Homo sapiens: one gene and its partners. The protein of the gene in region 1 purifies or fractionates together with the protein of each later gene. This does not show direct contact. Each region holds a gene or a part of one and is shown on either strand. Other genes may lie near its edges.

Region 1 (7,449 bases):
TGGAGAATGATAAGTATTAAGGAAATACTTAGGAAAGAAAAAATATAGGACATTGAGGGAATTTGCCATATGGGGGCCTGTGAGAAGAGCATTCCAGGTGGAGGGAATGGCTGGTCCAAAGGCCTGGCAGACATGTGCCTGGTATGTGCAAGGAATAGCATGGAACCCAATGGGCTGGAAAGGAATGAGCGAGAGGGTGGCAGGGGTTGAGGGTAGAGAAGGGAGCAGATCATGTCAGCCCTTATGCCTTTGCTTTTGGGAAGATGGGAAGTCATTAAAGGATAAGGGCAAAAGAAGGAGGCCAATGAGGAGTCTACTGCAGTCATCCAGGCCAGAGATGATGTGATGGAGAAGGGGTTGTGAGAAGACATTGGACTCTGGACAGATTTTGTTAGAATAGGTAGAGCTGACAAGCTTGGCTGATTGACTTCTGTGGAATACGAGACAAAGAGAGATATAACGAATGGCACCAAGATTGTTGGCCTGAGCAGGGGAGAAACAGAATTAACATGAGATGAAAGGGAGGCTGCCTCAGGGTTGGGGATTGGGAGCTTTATTTTGAACATGTGCAGTTTAATATTAGACATACAAGTGGAGATATCAAGAAGGCAACTTTTGATGGAAAGAATGCAAAATGCAAAATTATTTGAAAAATACTGCTGAGTCAATAGTAGCTCTTCCAGCACAGTCTTAAAGTAGAACCGTTACCATGTTTGTTAGGGGAAATATATCTACAAAATATTCTGACCTTGAAAAAGGACCTTGTGCTGGAAAAGTTTGGAAATAGAGATGAGTTCAAGTGAAAATTTTAGTGGCCAATAAATATTATTTTCCTTTTCTGCTTCTCCTATTCCTTTAGTACATGTTGATTTCAAAATTTGCAGCATTATCAGATTTTGAAATCTTAATTTTAAACTTGAGATTTTTTTCCCTCTAATCTTTGAATAGAGCTTTCTGGTAAGAGATGCCTAACACATGGCAGAATTGTGTTCTCCCAAGTTATTTTATTTTGGAAGGAAATTAGAATGTTCACTTATTACATGTTCACTTGTGATTTTTTGTGCATCGAACCTGTTCATGTCATGTGGTGCTATTTGAGACGACAAAAGAATTGGAAGACAGAGGTTTTTGCTATTATGGAATCTATAATGTGGGGTTAAGAAACAGATGGTATACCTCATGTGGAAAGATTGCTCCTTCATTGTTATTTTAATTAGCTTAAGTACATTTAATTTTACTAGCATCCATTTGTGATTGGCCATTTCAACATCTGTCCTTCTCAGTCTTATGCAGGGAAATATGTGCCAGCCATTGCACACCTCATCCATTCCCTCAACCCTGTGAGAGAGGTGAAGATCAACCTGAACGGAATTGCTATTGGAGATGGATATTCTGATCCCGAATCAGTAGGTTTCTCCTTCTGACTTTCTATTTTGTCTCTTAGGGGGATTAAATGCCTTTTTATCAGATGGAAGGCTCCTCTTAGAGGTCTAACTTTTGATAAGGGAAACACCAGTTGACTTTATGACTTAAATCTCCTAATTTTTACCAAATGTTTCAACGTATCAATTTACTGTGTCAGCTTACATTGGCTGTCAGTGCAAATGTGTGTGTGTTTGTATTGTGTTGTGTTCTGTTGTGTGTGTTGTGGGGTGTATATGTGTGTGTGCATGTAATTATCCTACTTGGCTAACCAGCACAATATTAACAATTACAAAGGATTATTTCACCAAGCAAATGGGCTTCCTTAAGGTCTCTTTCTCTCCCTTTGTCACATTGATGTGTGTCTTTTTTGTCCTCAGATTATAGGGGGCTATGCAGAATTCCTGTACCAAATTGGCTTGTTGGATGAGAAGCAAAAAAAGTACTTCCAGAAGCAGTGCCATGAATGCATAGAACACATCAGGAAGCAGAACTGGTTTGAGGCCTTTGAAGTGAGTTCTGGGGGCCCTGTGCTGCCCTTGAGCAATTAAAACCATCTGGGGAGGGAGGGCGGGTGAGCAGGAACACCTTGGTGCTCAGGCATTTTTTTGTTAAGAAGGTATATCTGTTATTCCATTGGAGATCGGGAGGCGAGTTGAGTGGCCTCATAATGAAGAAAAGGACTGTCTGTGTTCCTTTGAATTTACTTTGGCTATATTTTAAGCCTGAGATCATCTTGGAGTGTTTATCTAACTGTGTCTTTCATTAACCGTTTTGATTTCTTTAAATGCTGTGGAGGCCCTCAAGGCAGACTCTATCATATGGAAATCAGAAGAAAGGCAACCCAGGAAGTAGAGGCATATGCTTCACCATCTGCTCTAAACCATGTAGAAGAGTTTTATATCCACAAACAGGGTTTCAGCTGGGAGAAATGACCACAGTGTGTAACAGATGACATGTGACACACGTGTCAGGAACAAAGATTATAAAGTGTAGTAATTTGAAACTCTTACAAAGGGCCATTGGTATTTGTGCATATCCTTTCATTGCTCCCCTAAAATTAAACTTGAGAATCAATAATTACGTTCTTCACTCTTTTCTTTCTCAGTTATTTAAAATGTAAGAATATACTAAATATTAGGATACAGGAAGTTGGGTTTTTTTTGTTTTTTTTTGCTTTTTTTGCCAATGCAGACAGAGCCATGTGTAAACAATCTCCCTGAGGGGCTTTTTGCCGTATTTACTATACAGCCATCATGTTTGACATGGTAGTAAATGAGGCAAGGTCTGAATTTCGAGGGCTTTAATTTGTTTGTTATTAGACACATATTCTGTAACAGTATATCTAATGTCGTTATTGTTATTAAAGCAGAAATCTGATATTAAGTCTTAAGGGCATTGCAGATCAGCCAGTTCAGATCAAAATAGGAGACATGCAACCTTGGAGAAAAGGGTAGAGGATAATACAAAGTTATTTTTCATTTTACAAGTAGGGTGTTGGGACACTATCAGAAATCCCCCAAGGCAGTGACCGCCCTTGCCGTGAATTCTGATAGCAGCTAGCTGTGCAAATGGATGGAGCAAAGGGAGTCCTGAGCCATCCTACAGAGCTCCACCAGGCTCTCCTTTCTCTGTGTCAGGACACTAAATGTGGCTGCAAAGTGTGGATTCAGAATTTCTTATGCAATTGTAAACACAAAGGAAGAGGGGTCTCCTGGGGCACATGTAGGATCATGCTTCCACTTGCAATGACAGTATTTTCAAGGCTTTCTGCTGTGGTAGTCACAGAGGGGACGAAGGAGTGAAACTTCAGTATTTAGAATTAATACCAAATTTTATGTGGCATGAGACCAATTTGCAATTGAAACATTTGATATGTTTTTAAAGAAGCACACAGGATAAAGCAATTGTCAAGAGCAAGAGCATTTGAGAGGCCCATATTTAGAAAAAAAGCAGAAAGATGACTGGTACATAATGCAGCAGGCTAAACACCTACAGGATTAGTGAAGCTGTAGAAAAGTTCAGGTGTGTTGTGTATTCAGAGATAATGAGAACATGACCCACGAGGTGAGAATCTCTCCCAAACCGGATACGTCAGAAACCGGAACCCCAAGCAGGTAAAACGTTTGAAGGCTTGGAATGTCTTTTTGACCATTGGTCCCGTATCTTGAGTGATGAATTAAAACAAGACCTTTGCTTTTTCAAGGAAAATAGATAAAATGATACTTAGGACAGTAAACAACTTGTGGTTGAAATGTGTTTCAGTGACTGCAAAGGAAGACTCCAACAAATCCTGAAACCCAGGGGAATATAAATGTCAGAATCTCAAGCCTAAAATGATAAAGCCTGTTTGACGCTCTGATCCTTTAAAATGATTTAATTAATCAAAGAGTAGTAACTCAGAGCTGGAGAGTACTCTGGAGATAGGTCATCTACTGTCCCTATGCATTTACATGCACACACACACACACACACACACACACACACACACACACACACACACACACACACACATTTACTGGTGAGTGGAGAGGATGCCGAGCCCCAGGGGATAGCAATGAATTGCCGAAGGATACACAAATAGATTGTGGCAGGCTGAGGACTGGAATTGCTTCCCCCATTTCCACCACAGTATTTATCCTATGGTAATTTTCAGGCATTCTGTAAAAATCCTGGATCGTCTTAGATATTCTGCAAGATGTGAAATGACTGATCCTCTGTCCAGTATTACCTCCCTTTCCATGATGATTTTCTGAATCACAAAGTTCTTAGTTTCACAGGTCTTGACCACCCATGTTATTTTTTGACAACAACTGACTTTTTCTTTTTTTTTTTTTTTTTTTTGAGACGGAGTCTCGCTCTCTTGCCCAGGCTGGAGTGCAGTGGCAAGATCTCAGCTCACTGCAACCTCCACCTCCCAGGTTCAAGCCATTCTCCTGCCTCAGCCTCCCGAGTAGCTGGGATTACAGGCACTCGCCACCACGAATGGCTAATTTTTCTTATTTTTAGTAGAGACGGGTTTTCACCGTGTTGGCTGGGCTGGTCTCAAACTCCGGACCTCAAGTGATCCGCCCGCCTCGGCCTTCCAAAGTGCTGGGATTACAGCTGTGAGCCACCATGCCTGGCCAACAAATGACTTTTAACTCTTTCTAAAAGCAAAGTTATTCTTCAAGGTTGACTTTATATTCCCACTGGTGTTGAAGATAATTTCTAACAATGAGTTCCAAAAATGATGTGTGCATTCAGAATGACCCTGGCCTATGGTGCCCCATCTGGGTGAACAAATTAGAAAAAGACACCTCGGCCGGGCGCAGTGGCTCACGCCTGTAATCCCAGCACTTTGGGAGGCCGAGGCGGGCGGATCACGAGGTCAGGAGATCGAGACCACGGTGAAACCCCGTCTCTACTAAAAATACAAAAAAGTTAGCCGGGCGTAGTGGCGGGCGCCTGTAGTCCCAGCTACTCGGGAGGCTGAGGCAGGAGAATGGCGTGAACCCAGGAGGCGGAGCTTGCAGTGAGCCAAGATCGCGCCACTGCACTCCAGCCTGGGTGACAGAGCGAGACTCCATCTCAAAAAAAAAAAAAACAAAGAAAAAAAAAAAGAAAAAGACACCTCCTCTGTGGTGATGCAGTCCTGTGGGTTCAGGACGGGGCAGGCAGATGCCTCCATTGTGTGAGGATAAGAGGTGGCCACTTCTCCAGATGCAGCCCTGAGCCAGGCTCTCCAGCTCAGCGAGCAGAACTTTGGCTGGTTCCCTGTCCCTTTGCACCCCTTAGCCACAGGCATCGCATGGAGCTGCACAACCAGATGTGGGGCCCTGAGCAATGGTAGCATTGGTAGAGAATACTTACTACCACCTCCACCCACACCGCCTTCTATGGTGATAACCCTTTTCATTCTTGGCCTCTAGCCCCATGGCAATAGGAACTTGAATAAGTTCTTTCATGTTTGAAAAAGAATATGAATACAGGCCGGGGGCGGTGGCTTACACCTGTAATCCCAGCACTTTAGGAGGCCGAGGTGGGCAGATCACAAGGTCAGGAGTTCGAGACCAGCCTGATCAACATGGTGAAACCCCGTCTCTATTAAAAATACACACACACAAAAAAAAATTAGCTGGGCGTGGTGGCAGGCGCCTTTAATCTCAGGTACTCGGGAGGCTGAGGCAGGAGAATTGCTTGAATCCGGGAGGCAGAAGTTGCAGTGAGCTGAGATCTCACCACTGCACTCCAGCCTGAGTGACAGTGCGAGACTCCATCTCAAAAAAAAAAAAAAAGAATATGAATATAATAATTAGTCTATTTTCTCAAGCATTGAAGCATGGCCAGAAGGAATTGGCAAGTAGGAAGCATTGCAGGCTGACTGCTGGGAGCCAGTGTGTGCGTGGTTGAGTGTGCAGGCTCAGGAGTCGTGGCCTAATCATCTCATCTCTGACATTATTAGTGAGGTGTCCTCGGCAAGTTGCTTAAACTCATGTGTCTCAGTTTTCTCACCCATAAAATTAGAATAATAATACCTTATCTGATAAGAGACCTAAATTTGTACTTGATAGATTGTTTTTAACATGTGCTGACTTCATTTCTTTGAATTCTTTTGTAAGAACTCCTTACAACTTAATATCATCATCAACAACCCCCCTCCATGTCTTCAACCTCTTCTGTGACTATTTTCTTCTCTTCATCTTCTTGCTTTGCCAGAAACCTGGCTCTCCCCTGATGCTGCAGTCCCTGTGGTCCTCTTGAGTGGGGGCTGTTCTCTCTCTTAGCTTGTCTGTATCACTTGGTTCATAGGTGGAGTAGGTGTCTTCCTTGCTCATCATGTGACTTTCAGATCATGTTCCCTGCCTCCTCCTAAAGCATTGAGCTTTGACTCTCCTGTCCTCAGACAGGGCCTCTGACCACTTCCAACTGTGTCTGCCTACCAACCCCTGGTTACTCCCTCTCATTTGAATAGCTGAGCTCCTTCCTCCCTGTCACTCTCTGCAGCATTATTCTTGTCATAATTCCTGGTAACTGCAGGATCCACATTGACGATCCTTTTGGGACCTGGTCCTTGGTGCCTCAGCCTCCTCTTTTTCAATGATCTTGTTCTCCTCCTCATCTTAGCTGCTGATTCTCATACCCTAAAATGCTGGCAGCTGATCCACAATCACACATTCAAACATCTTTCTCCAACTACCACCTCCTGTCCGAATCTCTTCTGCTAATGTACTGATCTTACAGCCCTGCAACCTCACTACCTTTCAATCCATTGATCCTCCTGCCTCTCCACTATCTCTAACCCCCTCAAGTCTCCATTTCTCTAATTACCTGTCTTCAACCCAGGGTCAGTCATTCCATACATTTCCAAGCCCAAAGCTCTTTTGCATTTCTTCCAACTCCTTTGGCTGAACCACAGCCCTGGCTCAATCTGCCTCTCTGTCAGGCTGTGCTTGTCTCCACACAGCTGACAATGGCTGGAGGAAAGCATGCAACCATGCTGACTGCTCTCCCGCTCAGCTGGTGACTGGGTTTTTTAATGTCAGCCCAAAGATAACTTCCACCAGCTCCAGGAACCTGCATCTGCACCATATCCTGCGTCTTCTCTCCATGTCATCTGGTGAGCAGTTCATGATCCATGTTAAGGCACCCTTCCCACAAGGCTTACTCCCATAGGCAAGGCCTTTGAGCTTACTGTGTCCTCTGCCTGGAACCTTCCTTCCCCTAGATGTCTGCATGGCTCTATTCCTCTCATCCAATATGTCTTTACTCAAATGCCACCTTCTAAGTGAGGTCCTCTGTGACCTCCTCTCTACATTGTCCCATACACACATGCACACACATGACACTTCCTACTCCTCTTTAGTTTTCTCCTTGTCATTCCCTAACATACTCAAGAGTTTATCACTGTCTACCATATGATATAATTTACTTAGAAATGCTTGTTGTCCCCCACCAGAATAAAAGCTCCATGGGGGAGGACCATTGGTCTGTTTTGTTGATGGCCATTTCTCCAGTGCCATGACAGTGTCTAGCACAGAGAATATG
Region 2 (7,449 bases), on another chromosome or scaffold:
TGCCCTCCAACCCCAGAGACTCAGAGATCAGAGAGTGAGGTCACCCCTTCCAAGCCAGCTAGCCCTGGACAGGCAATGTGCCGCTGAGCAGCGGGGAGGCTTATGTGGCTTCTGGGATCCCTGCACCAGCATCAGAGGCTCCTCTGAAGCATGGGGGGGTGGACGGCAGGCAGATCCCTGCCCTGGGGACAGTCAGGCCGGTGCACACAAGTGGCTGCTGCTGGAGAGGCAGCATCCGTCCCTTGGCCTGGGCTTCTTCAGAAGCAAAAGCCAAAAAATCAGCCGTCTTCCCCACACCCAGCCTCCACCCAGAGTGGAAAGCACACACACGTGATAGGTGCCGTGTTACATGGGGCCGAGGCTACACGGGAATGTGGCTGTGCACCGACCGGGAGCACACGTGGGGGTTAGTGGTGGTTTAAATGGCCGCGGAGCAGCAGCCGGACCGGCAGGGTCTCGGCGGGTTGGTGAGTCCTGTTTTAGTGGGGAGGGTCTCGCGGCTCTCAGGCAGGGTACCTGGATCGGCTTAATTATCAGGCTGGATGTAGATCTGGCGCTGGGTCAGCACTTGAGAGAGCTCCCTCTGCAACTGCTTAAACTTTTGGTTGTCAGGGATAGCATCAATAGATCTACAGAGAGTGTTCAAGATGAGTGGAGTGGGAGGGAAGAGAACGACGAGAAGCCAGGAACGCAGGGGGCCACAGCTGAGGAGGAAATTCAGGGAGACCCACGAGGCGGAAGGGGGGATGCCGTGGCGGCTCTGGGGTGTGGAGTGGTATCGCCGCTGCAGAGGTCCACGCTGGCGGTGGTCGTGGTATTCAGGGGCTCGCCACCACCACCCGCAGGCTCTTCGGCTTCTCTCCCCCACTTCCCAGCCACTGCCTGGGGACTGTGCAGGTTGGCTGGGCGGGAAAGTGTGTTTGGTGTATCGGGCAGTGGCTGCCAGTGGCAGGCCTAACGCCAGGGACCACTGGGCTCTAACCCTGTCACAGGTCACGAAGACCAAGCCTCCCCCAGGTGGGCAGGGGATCAGAAGACAAGGGTCCAAAGAGGACTCCTCCTCTGTTTTAAAACTGTAAAGCAGGTGACTGAAATCTGTCGCCCACCCCAGTCCACGAGCTGGGGCAGCCCCGGGACTGCAGCCTGCCTCTCCTCTGGGCTGGGCTGTGAGAGCTACACCACGGCAGTGGGTGAGAGGGCTGGCCGCTAAAGGCATAGCACAGCCCGACTCACACGGTGCTGCTGGACTGCAGAGCGTGTTCTAGATTCATCATCTCAGCCGACCGTGCCTCCTCGACTGGACAAGGGCCTCTGCGAGGAGTGCCAGAGGCCATGCAGCTCGGGATGACAGAGCTTAGGGGAGATCCCGGCCTCCTGACTCTCCTGACTCCAAGGCCAGTGCTCCCTCCACAGCCGTTTACTGCCCCCAGCTGGGCTCTGGCCTCATGTCAGAGGCCTGCCTCCTGCTCTGTCCGCCGTGGACCTGGAGGGTCCAGAGAGCGCCCGGCTTTTGTTTGGGCTGACACTGCAGAGCTGAGGGCACGAGGTGGGAAGGATGGTGCAGGACACTGGCCACTGGCAGCAGAGCCCTGGCAGAGGACGTCAGAGAGGCTGGGGCCCCCTGAGAACGCCCAGGCTGAGGGCCCTGCCTGCATGTGGCGTCAGGGAGGCTGGGGGCCTGAGAAGGCCCGGACTGAGGGCCCTGCCTGCACGTTGCGCTCTGCTGTCTCGGAGAGCAGGCCAGCCAGAGGCAGCCGGGCTGCCCGGAATGTGGTGTCATGGCTCCCCTAGGCCCAGGCTGGAGGGTGGGGAGATTTTTGAGCGGGGACTGACAAACTGCAGGGCTGAGGAGGCTCCGGGGGCAAGGGCACCAATGGCTGTTAGGGTGAACATGCCCCAGAAAACAAATGGTGCAGATAGGGACCGACAGCTGCTACGGAGAGTGCAGATGACACATCAGGACTTTACTTTCCAAAATCAACATAATGATCATCCCAGAAGAGGGGCACTGCAGCCTACCAATGAGGACACCGAGGCCCAAGACCACACAGCTAGTAACTGGCAGAGCCAGGGTTCAAATCCCTCTGTCTGCTTCTAAAGCTTGTGCTTTCTGGTACATTACCTCAGCCCATTGACGATATCCTTTGTTTTTCCAAAGTAGATCTCGTTCAGCGTACTTCTGATTTTATTTTCCATGTCCTGGAAGGGAGGTCGGTCAGCGCAGTGGCAAAAGGTCAGGAACCCTGAGGCCCACGCCCTCCCTCCACCTGCCAGCCCTGCAGTCCCCAGTGTGGCCACTGGAGGGTGGCACACGCCTGCTCTGGGGCATCAGTGAGCGCGCTCCAGGCTGCCAAGACCCCACCTGCCATCTGTGCTCCCGGCACCTTCCCATCCACAGTCCACAGGCAGGGAGGAAGCCAGTACCCAGGGATTGGCGGCCAGCTCTGCCCATGCCTGGGAGCTGCTCTAAACCACATCACCACCCCTTGGGCTCCCCACTAATTTTGTGAACAATTCTGTGAAACCCGAGAGCACCTCCCTGCCTTCCCAAACAACGTGGTGACAGGAGGGCCAAGGCAGCCGCAACTGAAGCCACACCAGGGCCCACTGGCATTCCTGGGATCTGCTTCCTCTCCCAGCGCAGGGCCCTGTTCACACCCAGGCGATCAGGGGAGACAAGACCTAGTGCGCCCCAGAGCCAGCGCCTGAGCAGTCTTCTGGGAGCCCAGGTCTGGGGGTGGAGCAGGAGGTGGCCCTGAAGCTGGAGCCTGCTGGCATCCAAATCAGAGGCTCCAAAAATATGAGGCCAGGGCAAAATCCAAGAAGCGCTCTGCCGGCTGCGGTGGAGCTGAGAGAAAGCAGCAGAGAAGGAGGCCAGCACAGCGGCTCCGGGGCTGCAGTGTCACTGCTGTGGGTCACTGCAGGAGCCAGCCAGAGCCCAGGTCACTCACCTCTACCAGGCGCCCGATGTTGGCTATGTGTGGGGAGCAGTCACTCACAGTTTCATCCTTCTCCATCTGCAAAAGACAGAAACATTCCAAGTCAGAGAAAGCCAGAGATTTCTGAGAACGGCAGACAGCCCACCCCACCTCCACGGTCTGCAAAGAGCCTACTGTTCCCACCGTGGAGCCAGCTGCAGGTATGACAAGGCCAGTTTTGCAGCCTGGGAACTGAAGCACAAACCGACTTCAGTTTCAGACCATAAAGAGCCCAGAGGGCAGAAGCCCAGAGTCCCACTTCCAAGGGAGAAGATTTTGCTGCTGCCCATGGTAGAGCAGGCAGATGCCCAGAGCCACAGCAGCAGCCCTTGGCAGGCACCAGCTCACCCGAGCCAACTGGAGAAGACTCACTCGGTTTGTCTTCAGGCCTCTACTGGCAGGCCCAGGCCCACGCTGGGCCATCCACCCCAGGTTCAGGGCCTGACACTGCAGGGGAAGCTTCTGTGCTGCTGCTGCGCCCTGGCGCTCCCAAATGGTGGCTTTGGGGTGCCATCTGCTGCAGTCTCGCAGGGAGGGACAGACAACCTCTGACGGAGACTTCAGGCCAGAGGGATTCAGTGGCTCACCCTAGTCATGCAGGTGGCAATGGCAGAGCCTGGGTCAAACCCTTCCTCGCACCAGGGCCTGTTCGTTCTACTCTGCGAGGAGAGTTTGAGCAAGAGAGTCTCAATATAGACTCTGAGGTTATGAGGGGGGCAGCAGCACTCAAGCCCCATCTCCTCTTCCCAAGCCCAGGAAGAGCTGGCTCTGACCCAATCATCTCAACTCGGAGGAGGGAGGAAATGGAGGCAGGTTAGGGTAGAAGGAATTCGGCACTTTCCCCCGAATTTTTTCTTATCTGAAGCCTTATTTCCCTGACAAGAATATAAATTCTTTCAGGAGAGATGTGCCTGCCTCATAACGCACAGGGTACCTGGAAGAGTGCTAGGAACATAAATGCTCAACGTTACTACACTGAAAACAGGAATACGCAGCTACGATGACTAATGTTGTTGAAATAAAATGTGGAAGCTGAAATAAATAATCAAGAAAGAGGAAGAAAAGAACAGCATCAGAAAGGGTAGAGTAGAAACCATGCAAGAAGTGGCCATCAAATTATAATACAAAAATGCAGTACTCTAAGGCTAAGCATTTATTGTTGAGATTCTAAATCTGCTTAGACATTATTTATAATTTTTGAAGCTTTATTAAAATAAAATAAAATTTGTGAGAGAAGCTAAAAAAAAAAAAAAAAAAAAAAAAAAGAAAGGGTAGAGTTCAAAATGAGACCAGGCCCACAGAAGAAAAACCAGCAAAAGGTGGGTTCCTCTCTTTGGAACCAGGAGAACAGGGTGGAGTCTGGGGGGAGATACTGTCTCAGAGGGTACGGGCTCTGTTGCTTCTCACCTATTTCTACATCTCCTCATCAGGGAGACTGACTTTCAGGCTGTGAAAGGTGGAACCAACCTGGTTAAGAGCGGGGTGAGCAGAGGGCAGGAGAGAACCAAGCCACTTTAAACGACCAGGCTTCCAGGGTCGGGCAAAACCGACCTGTGATTGAAATCCTTGACACTGGGGGCGGCAGCACTGACCCGACTTTTGTCTTTTTTTTTTTTTTTTTTTTTTTGAGACGGAGTTTCGCTCTTGTCGCCCAGGCTGGAGTGCAATGGTGCAATCTTGGCTCACTGCAACCTCTGCCTCCTGGGTTCAAGTGATTCTCCTGCCTCAGCCTCCCCAGTAGCTGGGATTACAGGTGCCCACCACCACGTCCGGCTTTTTTTTATTTTTATTTTTATTTTTTATTTTTAGTAGAGACAGGGTTTTGCCATGTTGGCCAGGCTGGTCTTGAACTTCTGACCTCAGGTGATCCACCTGCCTCAGCCTCCCGAAGTGCTGGGATTACAAGTATGAGCCACTGCACCTGGCCGACCCAACTTTTGTCAAAAAAGGAAGAATGGCCTCTGCAAGGAAACGCTAGCTCGAAACTGATCCAGACAACAATTTTTGATGGGATCGTTAAAATCATCTGCTGGCACATTTTAAACTCAGAGATCATGAGGAGCCAGCCAGGCTCACTGTGAACAAGCCCTGCACGAGAGCACTTCTTTTCCTGTTTTGGTGGGGATGCTGGGCTGGAAGAAAACACAACTACTTAAATAGGGTCGCATCCTTCTGGCAAGTTCCCATCTACCATCCTGCACCTGTGGCTGAGAGGAAGGGCAGGATGGAGCCTCTGCCGATAGGGGTAGGGACCTGGCCACATTTCCACAGCCCCCCACCCACTCCCCTCCACACCTGGTCAGGGTCAGCTCGCTGGCAACACCGACCCACCAAAAATAGAACCATTTGTGCACTGCATACACTATGTGGCACCCTGTAGCAGTCTCTGCCTGCCCTTGGTCAACTTGTTTGTCCAGGACTTAAGTAAAGGCCCAGCTGAGAGAACGACCAGCTTCCTATCGACAGTGTCAAGGGTTGAGATGGTCACAGGGTTAATACGGAACCCGGAAACCTGGGCTAGCTACAGAACGAGAGCAGCAACTTGGAATGGAGCCAGGCGGCAGCCACCTTTTTCCATCTCAGCTTCCTAGGAACCCTGTTTTAAACCCAAGGAAACCGAAGCTTAAAGAAGCAAGAATCATACAGCACTGTTAGATTCCGACGCCTTTGCTCCTCCTACTTCACCACGCCAGTTAAATGTACCAGGGCAAATGCAAGCCAGATATTTAGGCTCAAGGGTGCATTTCATGCAGTACAAAATGGGGAACTGCTGACTTGCAAACAGTTCCTATGAAGAGACTTGTGGTTTTTAGATAATTTCAAGTTTGACAAGGATGAGATGTCGCTACTAGGAAAGCTTTTGTGCAACTTTAAGGTGCACAGATGACACTATTCCTTGTGCCCAGATAAGGGGCAGCATTCCCACCCCATCGCGTGATGAAGACACTGCAGCTGCCAGTTTCCATTGCTTGCTTGGGAAGGCAGTGGTTACCCTCTGTTCTGTCCTGGCCCAGCTACATCTGCAGGGCTGGATTCAGTTTAGGGCACTTTTTTTTTTTTAATTTTCTTTTAAAAGACAAGGAGGTCTTGCTATGTTGCCCAGGCTAGACAGGAACTCCTGCAATCCTCCCACACAGCTGTAACTACAGGTGTGTGCCACTGTACCCTGCTAAGGCACTGGGTTTTAAAAGCCTTGAATGAGTTAGCATTCATCTGCTTAAAAGGTCTGAACACCCTGACACCAAGAAATGGGAGAGAACTAGGGCTATCCAGGCCTGGCGGTGGTGGGTGGGGAGGGATGTGTGTGTGCTAGGGGAGACACAAGAGATTCTGGCAGGGCTCTGAAGGCCTGCTGTCTGCCAGGGGAACAGACCCAACCTATGTCGCTGTAGATGGCAGAGGGGGGACCGAGCAGTGAGAGAACATCACGGCTCACTGGGCTGGACTCGGTCTGTTCTGATAGAGCTGTCCCTGACAGGCATCTGCTCACAAAGCAATGTGGTCTGGGAGACCGACGGGTCTGAGAAAACGGGTGGCATCTGACAAGGGGGGGGGGCGGTCTAGGTGAGGGCAACAGTCCAGAACCTGCTGCCTCCCAAGTCATAACAGTAAATATCTGCAGAAAAAAGACATCTGGTTCTGGCAAGGCTGTTTTACTGAGGACTAGTGGAAAAGAGGGAGAGAAATGCTAGAAAGACCGGCTTCTCTGCTCCCATCTGTCTTGGCATGCTCTGGCAAGTCATCCTGAGGAATCTCGACCCTCAGACCCCAGGGGGTCTCCATAAAACAGGAGTAGTGAGAGTGCCCATGAGCTTGAGAGTCACAGTTCTCATTTCAGGTCTAATAAACACACCAACCTCGGCAGCACTGGAGCGTCTGCTGGAACATCATCTTTATCTGCCACTAGCAAAACCCTGGTGCCAAGACGACGGGGTGGGCTGTCTGCTCAACAGGAGCTGGGGAGCACCCTCAGGAGGGAGGGGGCTCCATCCACCCAGCTTCAAAAAGAACTTTTGCATGCTGGCCCCCGGGGACTGTGTGTTCTCCCAGACGTGAAGGTGGTTACTGTGCCTAGGCTCAGGGCTGGGTGGAGTCAGCTCGGCAGGCAGGGAAGCCTGGGGGTTGGATGGAAATGAATGAGGTCCTTCCAGCAAATCAGAGTCTCTCCTCCTCCCCGGCTCCATGTGGACGGCAGATTCCCGGCCACCCTAGGGAAGGGATGAGGGTTTTGAGCTCACTGTGGGCCCCATTTTAAATGGGCACCAACAGCCCAAAGAGAGGCCGCGGCCATCGGCAAAGGTCCTGGGTCACCTGGGCAAGTCCAGTCACATCAGCAATTTGGCCTCTTGGTTACCATCTTTGTGTTTCAGAATCAAGAGCCATCTTAAAACAAACAGGCGAAACCCCTTGGCCAACAAAGGTAGGAGAGGTCGGGTGGAGGAGAGGGCTGGGTCTTGCAGTGTGCGACACT
Region 3 (7,449 bases), on another chromosome or scaffold:
TCATGCCTCAGCATCCTGAGTAGCTGGGATTGCAGACGCCCGCTACCATACCTGGCTAATTTTTGTATTTTTGGTAGAGACGCGGTTTTTCCATGTTGTCCAGGCTGGTCTCCAACTCCTGACCTCAGGTGATTCACCTGCCTCGGCCTCCCAAAGTGCTGGGATTACAGGCGTGAGCCACCGTGCCCGGTCCCCCCCCACTTTTTTTTTTTTTGAGACAGAGTCTCGCTCTGTCACCCAGGCTGGAGTGCAGTGGCACGATCTCAGCTCACTGCTACCTCCGCCTCCCAGGTTCAGATGATTCTCCTGCTCCAGCTTCCTGAGTAGCTGGGGTAGCCTGCCACCACACCCAGCTAATTTTTGTATTTTTGGTAGAGACGGGGTTTCACCATGTTGGCCAGGCTGGTCTCGAACTTCTGACCTCAAGTAATCTGCCTGCCTTGGGCTCCCAAAGTGCTCAGATTACAAGTGTGAGCTACAGCGCCTGGCCTTTTTTTTTTTTTGAGATGGAGTTTCACTCTTGTTGCCCAAGCTGGAGTGCAATGGCACGATCTCGGCTCACTGCAACCTCCATCTCCTAGCTTCAAGCATTTCTCCTGCCTCAGTTTCCTGAGTAGCTGGGATTCCAGGCATGCGCCACCACATCCAGCTAATTTTTTGTATTTTTAGTAGAAACTGGGTTTCACGATGTTAGCCAGGCTGGTCTTGAACTCCTGACCTCAGATGATCCCCCCGCCTCAGCCTCCCAAAGTGCTGGGATTACAGGCGTGAGCCACCGCGCCCGGCCTTTTTTTTTTTTTTTTTTTTTTATGGAGTCTTGCTCTGTCTCCCAGGCTGGAGTGTGGTGGTGTGATCTTGGCTCACTGCAACCTCCTCCACAGGCAACCTTCTGCCTCAGCCTCCTGAGTAGCTGGGATTACAGGCATGCGCCACTGTGCCCGCCCAGGGATTCAGGTTTTCTAACCAACTTTTAGGGTCTTTTTTTTTTTTTTTTTCAACAGAGACAGAGTTTTGCTATGTTGCCCAGGCTGGTCGCGAACTACTGGGCTCAAGCAATCTTCTGCCTCTGCCATCTGAGTAGCTGGGACCACGGGCGTGTGACACTGCAACCAGCTAACTTTTTTTTTTTTTTTTTTTTTTTGAGATGGAGTTTCACTCTTGTTGCCCAGGCTGGAGTGCAATGGCATGATCTTGGCTCACTGCAACCTCCGCCTCCCAGGTTCAAGCGATTCTCCTGCCTCACCCTCTCAAGTAGCTGGGATTACAGGCACCTGCCACCACGCCCGGCTAATTTTTGTATTTTTAGTAGAGATGGGGTTTTACCCTGTTGGCCAGGCTGGTCTCGAACTCCTGACCTCAGGTGATCCACCCACCTTGGCCTCCCAAATTGCTGGGATTATAGGCGTGAGCCACTGCACCGGGCCTACAACCAGCTAACTTTTTATATTTTTTGTAGAGATGGAGTTTCACCCTGTTGCCCAGGCTGGTCTTGAACTCGTGGACTCAAACTGTTCACCTGCCTCCGCCTCTCAGAGTGTTGGGATTACAGGCTGGAGCCACTATGCCCAGCCCCCTTTTAGGGCCTTCAGGAGACTGAGATGTCGGGGGCAGGGGCTGGGGAGGAACAGCCCCTCAGGGCCGTGTGGCAGGGTCCACTTGGTCATGAGGTATCCCAGCGTGGTATAAGGGATGGGTGGACTCTGGGTCAGCTCCTCACCTGCCAGCTGTGTGACTGGGTGAGTCGCTTTGCCTTTCTGGGCTGTTTCCTCATCTGCGAAATGGTGGTGATGACAGTGCCTACCACACGGGGTTGCTGCGAGAGCCGTGCCCGTGTGGTACCCGACGTGGCCCTGGGATCCCAGAGGCTGTTGGCTTTGGTGATCTGAGCTGTAGGGTCTCAGCTCTGGGGGCCTTGCAGATCACCTGGTCCACTCAGGTTGAGAGGGGAAGGGACTTTCTCGGGGTCACACAGCCAGTGACCTTCCCAGTGCCTGGCTCAGTGCTTCGCTTCCCCTTACACCTGATGGCAGAACCCCAGGGCTCAGGGACACTCATGGATGTCATTTGGGGGAAGTGGCTCAGTTTACTCAGCTTCACTGGCTTGTTCTAGTGTGCTCTGTGGGAGAGCAAAGAGGAGAGCATCAATCCCAGTGGCCCCAAGGGACTGGATTTAAAGGTGCCATAGAGCCATTTGGTCAGTGTAGGCCTTTCAGATAGATTCTGAGTTGGGGTTATTATTTGTCTGTTTGTCTAAATCAAGCTAGAACTTGACATCACTTAATAAGACCAGGGAAGTTGACTGAAGGAAGCAAGAGAAGGAAGGAGCACAAATACATTATGCTCAAGATTAATTTTACTCTGAGCTTCCTAGTAGCCAAAGTGAAAAAGGATATGTGCTTAGACCCACAGCTCTTTTTGGTCCTGGCTCTTCAGAGGAAATGGAGCTTTTTCTCATGGTACTGAGCATAGAAGCCCAGGTAATGCTCAGTGACAGGTGTCATGAGGCTGGTCTTTATAGCTTCTCCTAGTGGGCACCAAAATGGATGATGAAGCTTTCTGGATGAGGGTGGTGGGGAGAGGGTGCTCCTGGCAGAGGGGGCAGCGTGAGCAGAGGCCTGGTAGTGTGGACAAGCCGGTGTGTTTGGGGAAAGGCAGGCTCCTGCACTGACCCCGCGGGTCCTGTCGTTTCAGTTGGGCCATATGGTGCTCTTCCCAGTCTGGTTCCTGTACAGTCTGCTCATGAAGCTGTTCCAGCGCTCCACGCCAGCCATCACCCTCGAGAGCCCGGACATCAAGTACCCGCTGCGGCTCATCGACCGGGAGGTGAGTGCCGGCCGCCGCCGCTGCCTCGTCAGCATCACAGCATTGCCCAGCACCTACTCTGTGCTCAGGGCATGGTCCTGCTCTGAAGTAGATACTGTTGTCCACCCATTTTACAGATGGAGAAAGCAAGGTGATGTCTCTTGCTAAGGCCACCAGGAAGTAGCAGAGGAATTTAAACCCTGGTCTCTCTGTCCACAGAGCCCCTTCTCTGAACCACACTCACTGCCTCATGCAAGGTCAGAATGGAAGGAACCCCTCAGAACTTTTAGGTTCAATCCCCCATTTATGGGGTAGGAATGCAGGGGGTGAGAGATTTGAAGATAAGGTCTCCTCCCTCCTCCCCCTCCCCCAGAGTCATTCCCCACAGCCTGGTACTACTGGACCTGGACACCTTTCACATCTGTGCAGATTCCCTGGGTGCTCTGAGCTGTGTGGGCTTCCTCTGCCCTGTTTGATTCTTACTTTCTTTCATTAGTGAGTTCATACTTTTTTTTTTTTGAGACAGAGTCTTGCCCTGTGTCCCAGGCTGGAGTGCAGTGGTGCGATCTCCGCTCACTGCAACCTCTGCCTCCCCAGGCTCAAGTGATTCTCCTACCTCAGCCCCCTGAGTAGCTGCGATTACAGGCGTGAGCCACCGCGCCCAGCCTAATTTTTGTATTTTTTGTAGAGGTGGGGTTTCGTCCTGTTGCCCAGGCTGGTCTCAAACTCCTGGGCTCTAGTGATCCCCGCACCTCCACCTCCCAAAGTGTTGGGATTACAGGCATGAGCCGTGGTGCCCGGCCTGACTCCTTTTTTTCAAAGCTCTGATTATGATTTAAAACCATCCTCTCCCTCTTTTGCCTTGCCCCCAGTAAAGGCTGCTTCCATCGGTCACTTGCCCTCTTCAGAGCCCCTCCCTTGCTCTATTTCTGGCCACCCCCAGCAGGCACAGGAGGGGTGTGGCAGGGAAAACTGAGTCACAGCAGAGAACATCATCTGCCAGGGCCCAAGTCTCCACCCTGGGCTTGTGCCTGGTGCCTCTGACTCAGGCTTCACAGGAATCTCAGGCTTCCATGGCACGGAGCTGGCCGTTTCCTGTAACTGTTGGGGCAAGTGTCTGTAATTGTCCCAGGAGCTCACAGAGAAGTTGACAACCAGAGAGAAGCAAAAAAATACAAAATGAAAAGTAAATTATTGGCCAGGCACGGTGGCTCATGCCTGTAATCCCAGCACTTTGGGAGGCCGAGGCCGGTGGATCACCTGAGGTCAGGAGTTCAAGACCAGCCTGGCCGACATGGTGAAACCCCATCTCTACTAACAATACGAAAATTAGGCCAGGCGTGGTGGCTCACACCTGTAATCTCAGCACTTTGGGAGGCCGAGGAGGGCAGATCATGAGGTCAGGAGATCGAGACCATCCTGGCTAACACGGTGAAACTCTGTCTCTACTAAAAATACAAAAAATTGGCCGGGCGTGGCTGGGCTCACACCTGTAATCCCAGCACTTTGGGAGGCTGAGACAGGCGGATCACAAGGTCAGGAGATTGAGACCATCCCGGTAACACGGTGAAACCCTATCTCTACTAAAAATACAAAAAATTAGCCAGGCGTGGTGGCAGGCACCTGTAGTCCCAGCCGCTGGCGAGGCTGAGGCAGGAGAATGACGTGAACCTGGGAGGCGGAGCTTGCAGTGAGCCGAGATTGCGCCACTGCACTCCAGCCTGGGTGACAGCAAGACTCCGTCTCAAAAAAAAAAAAAAAAAATTAGCTGGGCGTGGTGGCAGGCACCTGTAGTCCCAGCTACTCCAGAGGCTGAAGCAGGAGAATGGCGTGAACCTGGGAGGTGGAGCTTGCAGTGAGCCGAGATCGTGTCACTGCACTCCAGCCTGGGCTACAGAGCAAGACGCTGTCTCAATCAATCAATCAATCAATCAATATGAAAATTAGCCGGGCGTGGTGGCAGATGCCTGTAATCCCAGCTACTCCAGAGGCTGAAGCAGGAGAATGGCGTGAACCTGGGAGGTGGAGCTTGCAGTGAGCCGAGATCGTGCCACTGCACTCCAGCCTGGGCTACAGAGCAAGACGCTGTCTCAATCAATCAATCAATCAATCAATATGAAAATTAGCCGGGCGTGGTGGCAGATGCCTGTAATCCCAGCTACTTGAGAGGCTGAGGCAGGAGAATCGCTTGAACCTGGGAGGCAGAGGTTGCAGTGAGCCAAGATCACACCATTGCACTCCAGCCTGGGTGACAAGAGCGAAACTCTGTTTCAAAAAAATAAAAAATAAAAAGCAAAAAAAAGTAAATCACCACCTCCCAGATGAGACCACACTTAACCTTGCGATATGATTTTTTGTTTGTTTGTTTGTTTTTGAGATGGAGTTTTGCTCTCGTTGCCCAGGCTATAGTGCAATGGTGTGATCTCGGCTCACTGCAACCTCTGCCTCCCAGGTTCAAGCGGTTCTCCTGCCTCAGCTTCCCAAGTAGCTAGGATTACAGGTGCCCACCACCACGCCCTGCTAATTTTTTTTTTTTTTGTATTTTTAGTAGAGTCAGGGTTTCAACATGTTGGCCAGGCTGGTCTCGAACTCCTGACCTCAGGTGATCCACCCGACTTGGCCTCTCAAAGTGCTCGAATTACAGGCGTGAGCCACCGTGCCTGGCCCTGTGATATGTTTTATACTTATGTAAGCAGGCACACATGTTTTTTTCTTACCCAAATGAAATAATAACATTTTGAAACCTGTTTTTTAACGGTATTTTCCCTTGTTATTGTTATTGGTGGGTTGTTTTGTTTTTGTTTGTGTTTTTTTAGAACAAGGTCTCGCTCTGTCACCCAGGCTGCTTTCTGCAACCTCAAACTCCTGGGCACAAGCCTTCTGAGTAGCTGGGACCATGTGCATGCACCACTATGCCTGGCTCTGTTACTGTCGTTCCTTTTTGTTGTTGTTGAGATGGACTTTCGCTCTTGTTGCCCAGGCTGGAGTGCAATGGCACAATCTCGACTCACCGCAACCTCCACTTCCCAGGTTCAAGTGATTCTTCTGCCTCAGCCTCCCAGGTAGCTGGGATTATAGGCATGCGACACCATGCCCAGCTAATTTTGTATTTTTAGTAGAGATGGGGTTTCTCCATGTTGGTCAGGCTGGTCTCGAACTTCGACCTCAGGTGATCCGCCCGCCTCGACCTCCCAAAGTGCTGGGATTACGGGCATGAGCCACCACGTCTGACCCTACTGTTTCTTAATTCCAGAAATAATGTATGATTTATATGTGCTCACAGCAAAAACTCTGTAAGGTATGACCTCCACCCCTGCCCCATTGCCGCATCCCAGGGCCCCGTGCAGAGGGCCCAGGTCACAGCTCAGCGTGAGCCTGCCAGACCCTATGTGGGTATCACGTTCATACACGGGTGTGTGGAGGTGCGGGTGTGTGCACACTCAGTTTCTTTTTTTGATAACCTGGTTTTGTAGCCAGCCATACAACATGGATCCTTTTAGTATTTCATCATAGGGATGTTACACAAGGGAGCATGTGGCAGATGTCCTAGGATTGCAGCTTTGCCCCCTCATTGTGCCCATGGTGGCTTTGCGGGGTCCGCAGCGGGCCTGCTCTGGGTGCTCTGTGCTTTGCCCCACCCTGCTGCCCTACTAGAGGTTGGCCAGCACCATAATTGTTCATCTCTTGTCCTCATTTCTATTCTTTTTTTTGAGACAGAGTTTCACTCTTGTTGCCCAGGCTGGAGTGCAATGGTGCGATCTCAGCTCACTGCAACCTTGCCTCCCAGGTTCAAGTGATTCTCCTGCCTCAGCCTCCTGAGTAGCTGGGATTACAGGCATGCGCCACCACGCCTGGCTAACATTGTAGTTTTAGTAGAGACGGGATTTCTCCATGTTGTTCAGACTGGTCTCGAACTTCCGACCTCAGATGATTCGCCCACCTCGGCCTCCCAAAGTGCTGGGATTACAGGCATGAGCCACCACGCCTGGCCATCTCATTTCTATTCTTCCTCCAAATATTTTCTGGTACATGGGTGTCTGACCTTGACCCTTAGGACCAGTTGATAGTCCTGGAATCCACTTCCAGAAGGCCTTGGGGCTCTGTTTGCCCCTAATGCAGAAGCTTCTGGTAGAGGCAGCTTTGAGGCCTGGGCTGCCTGGGAGAGGTTGGTGGGCCCCCTGCACACCTGATCCTGAGTGGCGTTTGCACCGTCTTTCCTGCGATTTGCCTCTGCTCACACGTGTAGGGACGGGTCTCTCCTTGAGGCAGCTGCTCTGTGCTGGAACACTGCTCAGGTCGGAGAGTTCTCGTACTGAGCCGAGATGGGCATCTGTGATGTCCTGCCCTGTTGGAGAGGTCTGTTGTCCCCCTCTAAGTGATGACACCATCCACATGTGGACTTTGCCACGTTTGGATGTAAGCGCCTCTGCAGCGCCGACCTTCCGCATGGCTTCTTCACACTCCCTCTCCTGGCCATGCTGGGTACTGGGGACCCCACAGGGAGTGCACCCTCAGGACGCTGGGTTTGGTTCCAGCTCCGACTGGAACTGATTATGTGATCGTCCCTGGCCTGAGCGTAAGACCCACTTAACAAGACCTCAGGGGTTTTAGTCTCAGCTCCTTCCCTGGCCCAATCTGGCTCTTAGC

The links.
Region 2: the proteins of CPVL (region 1) and CAPZB purify together in Homo sapiens (affinity purification with mass spectrometry; 3 studies listed by BioGRID and IntAct, with this or other methods). This does not show direct contact.
Region 3: the proteins of CPVL (region 1) and CYB5R3 purify together in Homo sapiens (affinity purification with mass spectrometry; 3 studies listed by BioGRID and IntAct, with this or other methods). This does not show direct contact.

The regions. Positions count from the first base shown.
Region 1 is NC_000007.14:29,066,258-29,073,706, reverse strand, and holds part of CPVL (probable serine carboxypeptidase CPVL isoform b precursor), read left to right. Parts: intron 1-1,241; coding exon of another isoform or gene 1,242-1,283; coding exon 1,284-1,406; intron 1,407-1,802; coding exon 1,803-1,934; intron 1,935-7,449. UniProt on the Homo sapiens protein: May be involved in the digestion of phagocytosed particles in the lysosome, participation in an inflammatory protease cascade, and trimming of peptides for antigen presentation.
Region 2 is NC_000001.11:19,342,236-19,349,684, forward strand, and holds part of CAPZB (F-actin-capping protein subunit beta), read right to left. Parts: intron 3,018-7,449; coding exon 2,952-3,017; intron 2,200-2,951; coding exon 2,123-2,199; intron 630-2,122; coding exon of another isoform or gene 527-629; exon of another isoform or gene 517-526; intron 1-516. UniProt on the Homo sapiens protein: F-actin-capping proteins bind in a Ca(2+)-independent manner to the fast growing ends of actin filaments (barbed end) thereby blocking the exchange of subunits at these ends.
Region 3 is NC_000022.11:42,632,089-42,639,537, reverse strand, and holds part of CYB5R3 (NADH-cytochrome b5 reductase 3), read left to right. Parts: intron 1-2,691; coding exon 2,692-2,823; intron 2,824-7,449. UniProt on the Homo sapiens protein: Catalyzes the reduction of two molecules of cytochrome b5 using NADH as the electron donor.